Homo sapiens: one gene and its partners. The protein of the gene in region 3 purifies or fractionates together with the protein of the main gene of each other region. This does not show direct contact. Each region holds a gene or a part of one and is shown on either strand. Other genes may lie near its edges. The genes, in order: UFD1, POLR3B and SLC13A5.

Region 1 (3,650 bases), on a different chromosome or scaffold from region 3:
CTGGCTAACTCTGAGCCTTAGAATACTTCCTGTTAGAACATCACTCCTGGGGATGCCAGACCCCCGTTACCAAAGCCAGTCACCTCTGCATCCTTCTGTGCCTGCCTGTGGCATTTGGTAGAGTGACCACCCTCTATTTCTGCCCTTACTAGCCTGACAAGCAGCTGTCAGCGTGAGTGCATGGGGTCCTCTGCAAGCCTATCCATAGGGCCCACCACTCAGGCTTCACTCATGGCCTAGGCACGGCTTCCCAGGCACAGCCTCGGCCTCAGCATGCCTCTCCCTCCTCATGAGCTCCCTCTCATTTGTGACACAGCCCTCAGCCCCCTTTTCCCTTGGCTGTTAAAGTCACCTTCTCACTGCCACTCCCGATGAAACATTCTTGAAGGGATGTGATACCTGGGATTTGCTTCAGGGCATCTAATGTGGCTTGGGACTGGGTGTGAGGTAGTGCTGATCGATGGACTGAGCCACGACGTGAGCACTGTCCAACTGTCAGGGCTCGGTGCGTGGGAGCTCTCTTCTACGGCTCTTTCTACTGATGTATATGTCTGACACCCCTTTTAAGACGGTTTCAAATAAGACAAGCAAAATTTCATTGCAAGAGACATAGAGCTTCTGACCTGAGTCTGGACTCCCTGCACACCCAGTACTCATGGGCATTGTTTATCTCTTTCCGTCTCACTTCTCAGCCGTCGTCTACCTGGCTGGGTTGTTTAATAGAGACATGTGGAGGCTTTGTCAGATTTTTATAACCTCCTTAGCAGAGACCTCTGGGGTCTGTCACCATCTTGCAGCCTCAGCTGTGGTGGGCCATTCCATTGCCAGGTCAGCCTTGCCTTGTGCTGCTTTTGTCCTACCTCAGGTGCAGCCCTACTTGACGCAGGGCCTTATAATTTGCTTGTGGGACAGCTTGGAAGTACAGTGAGTGACTATTCCAGGAAAATGCTCTGCCCCTGGGAAGCCTGGAGCTAGTGAGTAATCCGGGCAGCCCTGCAGAGATGCGTTCACACTGTGAGCTATACAGCTTCAGTAGCACCCCTTTATTGGCCTTCTTCCTTCCACATCACTTGATTTTTCCCTCCTTCCTGACATAGTATCACGAATTACTTATCTTGGCTCAGGTTCCTCTTCCAAGGACCCAAGTAAGACGGGCCTGCCCAGTGTATAGGGAGCAGTGGTTGTGGAGGCTGCTTCATCTCTAGGAGTCTCATGTAGCCTCTTCTTCCTTTCAGATGATGCAGAACTTACTCTTGGAAGAAGGCGGCCTGGTCCAGGTGGAGAGCGTCAACCTTCAAGTGGCCACCTACTCCAAATTCCAACCTCAGAGCCCTGACTTCCTGGACATCACCAACCCCAAAGCCGTGTATCTTTTTCAAATAAGCGGAGTTCTTCTAGACAAAGGAGAGTGTGCTGGCGGTTGTTAAACATCATGTACTGTATTGAATCTGTGCCTGCTTTGGGGATCACACATTTGTGATTCAAGTTGTGATTTGAGAATAATGGGGTTCAGCTAGCACATCTGCGTGGCCCTGGCCAAGTGCACTGGGTGCTGTCTGGGCCACCTCTGTCACTTTCCAGACACTTCATGGAGACCACAATGAAGCCCTTCTTTCAGTTGGTCTGTGTCACCTGGCACAAAGCCAGGATGCACAGTATGTCCAGTGGAAGGAGGGAGCAGCTTATCTGCCTTCAGCTCCAGCCCCTTCTGTGGCTCCCTAGTACCTCCGCCCAGCTGTGCACTGGCCCGTCAACCTCACTGCATGCCAGCCTGAGAGCTGATTCACTCCAGGCCAATAGGTAGCAATGACTGCAGTTTCTATGTCACCAAGCAGAAAGCAAAGGTATCAGGTTCTAGTGGATTCTTTTTGTTCACCTCTGAACTTAAGCCAGGTGTATGTGTTGACAGCATCAGGAAGTAGGCAGTGCAGGTACGGGACGGTGCTGTGTGCACCAATCAAGATCTCTAGCTCCATGGCCCTGATTTTTCCTGTTACGATCATGGCATAAGAGTGGCCACTCCATTCTACTTCTTTTTTTTTATTTTTTTTTAATGCATACTTGAAAAAAAAAACAAACAGTCAAACAACACAGACAGATAGGAAGTTAAGAAAAGCTGCCTCCTTTCCCAGTAGCGCTCTCTCCGCATGTTTTCTTAGGAGCAAGGCACTGCTGGGTGTGCTCTGGATGCATATGGGCCATGTATATTCTTTGCTGCCTATGTTCTGGACACGATGGCCTTGTTGAGCCTCCTGTCCCACAGGCAGGGGGATGTCCTATGGGAAGAGCTAGTTAACTTGTCCTTCAGAGCTCTGACCTAGACATGCTTGTTTGGCTGTCAGTGACCAGGAATGGGCCATGCCCATTTTCTCAGGGTTTTTACATGTGTTGCAATGCAGACTTTTTTTTGAGACGGAGTCTCACTCTGCTGCTCAGGTTGGAGTGCAGTGGCACGGTCTCAGCTCACTGCAAACTCTGCCTCCCAGATTCAAGTGATTCTCCTGCCTCAGCCTCCTGAGTAGCTGGGATTACAGGTGTGCACCACCACACCCGGCTAATTTTTGTATTTTTAGTAGAGACGGAGTTTCACCATGTTGCCTAAGCTGGTCTCGAACTCCTGACCTCAGGTGCTCCACCTGCCTCAGCCTCCCAAAGTGCTGGGATTACGTGCATGAGCCACCGCGCCCTGCCCCAATGCAGACTTATCAGGTTGATCTCAGATGCTGTTTTGTCAGCACAATTAACTTGTTAGTGTGTGGAGAAAGGGCGTCACTTCCATCAGTTGAGAGCCTGGTGTTTTCTGGTCTGGCTGAGGTCTGGATGAAAGCAGTCTTGGCACCGAGCAGAGAAAGTGGGAAGCTGGTGCTGCAGCAGGTGCCAGAGTACGCAGAGGCCATATGGGGAGCCCGCCCTGCCTGCAGAGGCCTCGTGTTCTCAGCCTGAGGGCTCTGGCTCTGCTCCTCCAGCTGCTGCAGTGGAAGTCAGAGAAGATGCCCTGGCAGGGTCACTAGAGGAGTGGAGGGAAGGGCACTTCGTACCGTGGCACTTCATATTTGGGAGCAAAGAAAGCATCCACCACATAAGGCGCTTTTCACAAAGTTGCTCTGGTTCTGGAAAGCTGTTTGACCAAGCGAGGTGAACCTAGATAGCCTCACCCTTTCACCCTCAAGTTGGACTCACAGTGGCAGGCTCTGGAGCCACATTTCATGTGACCTTTTTATGTAAAGTCCTTCAGCAAATTGATGAGGAAGACATGGCAAAATATTCCACATGAATAGACATTTCCTTGTGTGGGCATTTGGGTTCTACAGTTTTACTGTTATAAAAAGTATTTGCTGGTTTCTTTATTTTAATTTCTATTAACTAAAGTTATCAGCTCAAAAGATAGAAACAACAGAAGTATAAATGAAAGCATCTTTGATTTTGAGGAACTTTTGAGAGGACCTATCTGACTCATTAAATCTTTTTTGTTCTTTAGTACTCCCACAGGATTTTTTAAAATCCCATGGTATAATTTGTATACAATAAAATGCACACAGTTCAGCCAGTTTGAAAATGTATACACCCATGTAATCAGAACATTTCCATGTCCCCAAAAGGTCCTTTCCTGTCAGTCCCCACCTGATCCCCTGGCCCAGAAACCTCTCAGC
Region 2 (3,650 bases), on a different chromosome or scaffold from region 3:
ATTATTTTAGTTTATCCCAAAATCAAAACATGCACAGAGGGGATAAGACTGTGAAGGCAGATTGAAAGACCTACCACCTCTCATGCTCATGAGGGGCTCTTTTTGAGCAGCTCCTTATTGTCCTTAGGTAGGCTCAGTCACAGCCAATTAGGAGTATACAGTCCATGACCTAATGTGGATTTTGACTCACTTATATTGGAAACACAAGCAATTGCCTAAACATCAAGCCAGGGAGTTTACATGGGTTTACTTCTATAGCACCCGCTACTCCCTGTGTCACGGTCCTTTCTCCTTTGTGTTAACATTGTTAGTTTCACTTGATTCTATTCCTTCTAAATTGTAAAATTCTGGAGGAAGGAAGGTTCACCATTGTATCTCAAGCTCCTAACATAGAGCCTTGGTTAGAGTACAGGCCCCATGAATATATGCTGAATTAATAATTACAACAAGTAAAAGATGTAGGGTCCAAAGTGTAGGAATTTATTATTTGGAAGAGATGAAAATAGGAGTCTGTATAGAGCTGCGATTTTTAGAAACTATTTAATTTATCTTAAACCATATGGAAATTGACACTAAAATTATCCAGTTTGTCAAATTTTGCATAATTTATATATCTTGAACTTTGAAACATTTCATTTCCCAGAGATTGCTTCAGCTAACTTCAAAAAAGTAGCTATTTTGTACATTACTGCAGCAGATGGTTCTAAGACCTGAAGATACAATCTTACAAGTCACCTGTCTTAAGTATTTTTTTCCTATTTGCTATATTCTGTCCTTGTTGGTATTTTTGTTTTAGAACTGTACCGGGTTGCATAGATGTTTAAAAAGATTTCTTTTCTTTTCATTTTGAAATAATTTTAGATATACAAAAAAGTGATGAAACTGGTACAAAGATTTTCCACAATCTTTCATCTAGATTCCCAACTGTGAACATCTTATGTAACCATAGCACTGTTATCAGCCTCATGACATTGAACAATACTATAATCTATGGATCTTATTCAAATTTTGCCAGTTGTCCCACTGTTGTCTTTTTTCTGATCCAGAATCACACATTGTTTTTAGTTGTCATGTCTCCTTGTCTCTTTTCATCTGAAAGAGTTTTTCAGTCTGTCTTTATTTACCTTTCGTGACCAAGAAACTTAAGGGCACTGGCCAGTTATTTTATACAGTCTCTCATTTCAGGCCAGAAGTTTTATATTTTTATGTAGCTGCATTTATTAATGTTTTCCTTTACTTATTTTATACAATGTCATCATAATGACTGTAATGTTCCAATGTCTGGGAGTAATTGTTAATGTAATCAGTTTTGTTGGGCATTTATGATGTCGTCAGCATTTACAATTACAAATAGTACTGTGCTGAGCATTTCTGTATCTAAATCTATTTTATATCCTTGCTTGTTATGAAGAGAAATTCCCCTGAGTTAAGGGATATATATATTTTTTAAAGGCATTTGTGCGAATCACCACAGTATCCCCTACAAAGTTGTACTGCTTTGCATTGCTGCCAGCAAAGTAGTGAGCTATTTTCAGATGTAAACTGTACTTTGTATTACTAATGTTCATTCTTAGAAATGACCATCTTTTGTTTTTTAGGCATGTGGTTTGGTTAAAAACTTGGCCCTTATGACACACATCACAACTGATATGGAAGATGGACCCATTGTTAAATTAGCCAGTAACTTGGGAGTAGAAGATGTGAATTTATTATGTGGGGAAGAGCTCTCTTACCCAAATGTGTTTCTTGTCTTTCTTAATGGTGGGTATATTATAGAGACATGTTGGTCCTAGATAGTCTGTGAAGAGGGGGAGGGAATCCATTATTATCCTGGTATTTAAAGCACAGATAGACTTTAATTCTGGGCCCAGGTTGACCTTCACTTAAAGGTAGAAAATACAATGATAACAGAAACAGTTACTTTGTTGGCTGGGTTATCCAAGGTTCTGAGAGGATATAGCTATCAGAGCTAAAGGGTAACTTTGCAGAAAGTGGCTGCTTTCTCCCCTTTTGCAGTTGCTGGCATATCCTTAGTGGAATACGGTTCAACATGGTATCTTTAAGTACAAGTCAAATATTGGAGTCATTCTGCAAAAATTATCAGATCAACTCTTATAATGAATTGACTTTGTCTAGCCATCTGATAATCAATATGTCAGCAGCCTGTGATAAGAGGATCCCTCTCCTTTGGCTCACACTCCAGTTATTTCTTTCATATACCTCTTCCCGTCTCCTTCGAAGTCTTCCAGAGACTTAGCAGCAAGTGTGCTCTCTTCCTTTCTGCTTTTGATTTGGTGCTGTGTGCCTGTTCTCTCCCTAGTATGCTCCATGAGCTTATCCCTTATCACTTGTCTGTTCTCTCTTCCTCTCCCCCTTCCTCTCATTCTAGGAGGCATTAACTCTTTTTTATATCTGCTGGTGAGGAAGGGGTCAGAGCCTCAGCAGGGCTGTTAACTGACTGCCTAGTTCATTGTATCCCAGAGGCTAACATTGAGTGAGCTTTTACTCTGCACTTTCACCCAGTGCCTCTTTGAATCCTCCCGCTAACCTTGGGAAGCAAAGTTCATTTTCCTCATTTCACAAATGTTGATTACAACAAGAAGCAGTTTAATAATAGCAGTTAGTAGGTGCTAGGCAGAATTCTCAGTACTTTAAATGATCAGCTCGTTTAACCTTTACTGCCAGCCTGTGGAAGTGATGGAGCCAGTGTTCAAACCCAGGTTGTTTGGACCCCAAGTTCATGCCCCAGCACTGTGCTGAAAGATGAGGAAAATGAAGCTGACTTTTCCAGTATTCCTCAGCCTGCATGTGGAAGGACTGGCCCTTAAGCATTCTTCCTTTGTTGCTTCCCTGCAACCTTGTGGACTGGCTGCAGGTGTTAATAATGGTATTTTCAAATAACTGCTTAGTGCTGATTACTATTTTTATTGGTTGGATATATTAAATCAGGTTGCATTTATTTTTTATTTCTGTCTTACCTGTTCTTTCTTTTTGCCTAGGTAACATCTTAGGTGTCATTCGAGACCACAAAAAGCTAGTGAATACATTTCGACTCATGAGAAGAGCAGGATATATCAATGAATTTGTTTCCATCTCAACAAATCTTACAGATCGATGTGTCTATATTTCTTCTGATGGGGGAAGGCTATGCAGGTATATATGCAGGTTACTAAAAAGAGTTTTTAAGAATCTCTTTATATTTGCTCTTGAAAGAAATAGACTTGTTTTTATTTTTGAAACTGTTTTAACCTCTTTCATTGTGAAGATAAATTTAATTCCGTGAGCAAACACTTCATGAATATGCATATTAGGTACCGAGGATTCAGATTAATGGGAGACAGAGTCTGCCCTCAGAGAGCTCAGTCTGCCGGGAAAGGCAGAAAAAATGACTAATAACAATCAACTGTGGTAGTGGTTAATGCTAGCCACCATTTGTCATTTTAATGGAGACACTATATGTGTAAGGCTTTAACTTCTTCATTCAACCCTATGAGGTTGGATTATTCTTGTCATTTAAGAAATGAGGAAACTGAGGTTCAGTGAGGCTAAGTAACTTACTGAAAGCTAAAGAGTGGTGGAATCTGTTTTTTATTTGAAAGTCCTTAGGATTCGTTTGACGCATGATTTTGCCCACTATAGTCTGTTGCTAC
Region 3 (3,650 bases):
AGCCTGCATCCCCACTCCAAGCTGTCCCTGAAGTCAGCATCTGGGGACTGGGTGGCTCTAGTGTGTGGCAAGGGACAGTCCTGATGAGGCCTTCGTGCCACGCTCCAGGTGTGTGTCCAGTACATGAAGGACACCAACATGCTGTTCCTGGGCGGCCTCATCGTGGCCGTGGCTGTGGAGCGCTGGAACCTGCACAAGAGGATCGCCCTGCGCACGCTCCTCTGGGTGGGGGCCAAGCCTGCACGGTAATTACGCCTTCTCTCTCTTGCCACGTGGCTCTGCATGAGCCCCAGGGCTGGAAGGGGGTGGAGGATGGCACAGACCAGGCCATCCACTGGTGAGGGCTGGCCATGGGCTTACCTGGACTTGGCTGGGTGGGGTGCGTTATAGCTTTAGTGGGAGAGACCAGATGCATGCGTGGTGGTGGCACATGGTGAGCAGCAGTAAGTAAGGGTCCTCGAATCCAGAGGAGGTGGGTCAGCAAGAGTCCTTGCAGGCTTGGAAGGCTTTCTGGGGGAGGCAGCTAGCTGCAGGGTTCCACCGGGAACAAATTGGATAGAGGCTGGATCAAGCTGTGTCTGATAGGATAAGGGAAGCAGGCCAGAAGTGGCTCAACTACCCAGCTCATGGGGAAGCAGAAAGGTCCTCTCTCCAAGCTGGAGCATCTATTCCCACTGCAAAGAAGCTTCTTATCTTCCCCGATATCACTCAGTACCCCAGCTTCTCTCTCCATTTCCAGGATCTCTCCTGCCAATCTAGCTAGCCATTTCCAGCTAAGCCATGGAGTCAATATAATCATAATCATAACCATAATCAATCATGATCATAATGGGTATATTGAGTGTCTACAAGGCCCCAGGCATGATACCAGGAGCTTATGAATTGCCTCATTTAATTCTTACCACAACTCTGAGAGCTGAGTATTCTTACTGCCCACATTCTGTGGATGAGGGATTGGAGGCAGAGAGGGATAAAGTGATTTGCTCATGGACACACGGGGATTGGACCCAGCTTCTCTGATAAGGCCTGTGTCCTCTCTAATCAGAAACTCAGGGCATATCTTCCTTTTGAGACAATGTGTCCCCTCAATGATGGCACGTCCTTGGCCCAGCCATCAGGAGTCAGCTGCTGGTCAGTTTACGGTAAATTCCTCCTGAGGCGCCCCTGTGTCAGGGGCTGTGCTAGACCCTGAGCACACACAGACGCTAGCCTGCCCTGCAGGCAACCCATGCCCGGGGCTCCCTTGGTGCCTCAGATTCCCCTGAGCAGGGGACTTTGTGGCTCTCTGATCTGTTACACATCCTGGCATTGATTCCTTCCAGTAATTGCTTTAGCATCAAATCAAAAGCCATCATATTTTCTAGAAATGAGAGACCCCAGGAAAGTGGACCTCAGGGCCCTCAGAATTCTTCTGCTTGGCTCCCTTGAGTGGCCAGCTTGGGTGGGAGGCCACTCCAGTGGGTTTCATTCTGCAGCATGCTGGAGAGCTTCCACTTCCAAACCCAAGTTCACACATGCTTCTGTATCCTTCCTGCCACCTTGCTCCTCTGAGTATGGTCTCCGGTTGTCCAAGGCACTGCCTGTCCTGGGAGTCACCTGTATGTGAGGCACCCTTGGTGCCTTGAGATATCATGTAGAAGCCTTGGTTCTTCTCAGACAACTCCATTCATGCAAACTCTCCCCCTCCTCCTAGCCTGGGTCCCGGGCTTTGTTTTTTTTTGGGTCCATAATGTCTGCCTGTGTGGACAGCAGCTTGGGCCCTGGTGCAGAACAGCTCCTAGGTCCCTTCTTCAGGCTCCTACCCCTGCCCCTGCTCCTACCCCCAGGTGAATTAGGAGCCCTGAGGAGGAGCCTGGCTGCAGCGAGGCCCACAGACTGAGAGTAGCTGAGCTCCTTCTGTCCCTAGCCTTGGACAGCTGGGGCATGTAGAGCCACAGAGCAGAGTCAGGCCCTGCCCTGCTCACAGCCCAAGGAGAGAGCAGACATGGAAACAGGTGCTTTGAACCCAGCACAGCGATGATTAGAGTAGGGGGAAGGATTGAGAAGGGTCAGGCCAGCCCCACCTGGTGCACACACTGAGAGCGTGGTCCCAGAGGAGGGATGTTGTTTGAGCAGGCTCTGAAGGACCATGAGGAGTCTTCCTGATAGACAGCAGAGAAGGGAGCAGGGGTTACAAGCAAAGGGAGTGTTTCTTCTGAATACTGTTTGTGTGATAGCTCCACTGCAGCATGGAGGGGTCAAAGTGTATGTGCGGGGCGGAGGGGAGATGGCAGGGTTGGAGTGGCAGCCGGGAGAATAGTCACACTTTCCCAAGCTCCCTCCCCAGCTCACCCTACCCCTACTCTGCTTAGCCCTTCTGAACTTCTGAGAGGTGCAACAGAGTTTGGGGGTGGGTGGGAATTTCCTAGCCAGAAGTGGGAAGCTGGGGCTGCCTGCACATAGGGGTATTCCAGCACACCCTAGGGCAAGCTCATATTGAGTTGGCACCATCTGGATGCCTGGGCTTCCCCTGCTAGATGGTGGGGCAGGGGTGCTCCTTAGAACCACGACTGGATCTGAGGCCTCTTGGTAACCCCAGAAGCAAGCAGAGTAGACATCAGTCATGGGTGTGGGAGAGGCAGGAGGGAGAGAGGAATGGAGGAAGCAAAGAAGGGAAGGAGGGAGGGAGGGGAGGCTCTAAAACCGTCATCCCTATTCCAATATCTGATCTTGAATTGGCCTCAACACCTGTGCATCCCTGCAGGGGTGGACCCAGTCCCCAGTTGCTTCCCAGGGAGTACGGGGGTGGGGTGGGGATTCTCTGGCTTTCCTCCCTGCCCCTCCTCTGCAGGCTGATGCTGGGCTTCATGGGCGTCACAGCCCTCCTGTCCATGTGGATCAGTAACACGGCAACCACGGCCATGATGGTGCCCATCGTGGAGGCCATATTGCAGCAGATGGAAGCCACAAGCGCAGCCACCGAGGCCGGCCTGGAGCTGGTGGACAAGGGCAAGGCCAAGGAGCTGCCAGGTGAGCCCCTGGCCAGGGCACTGCCAGGCCACAACAGCAGCCTTCCCCTCCCTCTGCTGGCAAATGCTTTGGCCACCTCCTTCTCCCTGTCTGCTTCCCGGAGCCCTCCTTTAAACACGCATAGAGAAAAAAAAATAGAAAATACTGTTGTCCTAAGTTTTAGGAGGGGATTATTGCACACAACTTAGATCCTTTAATAGAGCTTTGAACAAAGTCTCACCCTCAGTTCCCATCAGTTGCAGAAATCAGTGTGTTCACCTGATTATTCATTTGGGCATCTTTCGAGCACTTAGGGATGCCCCTCACTCCTTGCTACTCCTGCTCATCCTCAAGGAGGCCTTTTCTGACCTCCTCGAGCAGCTCAAATCCTTCCACTCTCTGCTCCCATAGGTCTGGGGCTTGGCGTCCCATGCTTGCTTCCCTGCTAGGTGCGAAGCTCAGGGAAGACGAGTCAGCATCTACCTTGCCGTCTGCCGTGTTCCCTTACCATCCCCAGCCCAGTGCAGTAGAGTCAGGGTCTGTGGCTGACGGCCTGATTGCCAGACCCTGGGCAAGGTCCTGGGGCTTACAGAGAGGAATCGGGCACATCCCTGCCAGCAACTCTTATGGAGCCCAGTGGGGCAGCTAAATCAGCAGAGCTG

Evidence for each region.
Region 1: the proteins of SLC13A5 (region 3) and UFD1 purify together in Homo sapiens (affinity purification with mass spectrometry; one large-scale study listed by BioGRID and IntAct). This does not show direct contact.
Region 2: the proteins of SLC13A5 (region 3) and POLR3B purify together in Homo sapiens (affinity purification with mass spectrometry; one large-scale study listed by BioGRID and IntAct). This does not show direct contact.

What each region holds. Positions count from the first base shown.
Region 1 is NC_000022.11:19,465,589-19,469,238, reverse strand, and holds part of UFD1 (ubiquitin recognition factor in ER-associated degradation protein 1), read left to right. Parts: intron 1-1,235; coding exon 1,236-1,366; intron 1,367-3,650. UniProt on the Homo sapiens protein: Essential component of the ubiquitin-dependent proteolytic pathway which degrades ubiquitin fusion proteins.
Region 2 is NC_000012.12:106,430,720-106,434,369, forward strand, and holds part of POLR3B (DNA-directed RNA polymerase III subunit RPC2), read left to right. Parts: intron 1-1,598; coding exon 1,599-1,761; intron 1,762-2,999; coding exon 3,000-3,153; intron 3,154-3,650. UniProt on the Homo sapiens protein: Catalytic core component of RNA polymerase III (Pol III), a DNA-dependent RNA polymerase which synthesizes small non-coding RNAs using the four ribonucleoside triphosphates as substrates.
Region 3 is NC_000017.11:6,703,237-6,706,886, reverse strand, and holds part of SLC13A5 (Na(+)/citrate cotransporter), read left to right. Parts: intron 1-108; coding exon 109-245; intron 246-2,830; coding exon 2,831-3,009; intron 3,010-3,650. UniProt on the Homo sapiens protein: High-affinity sodium/citrate cotransporter that mediates the entry of citrate into cells, which is a critical participant of biochemical pathways.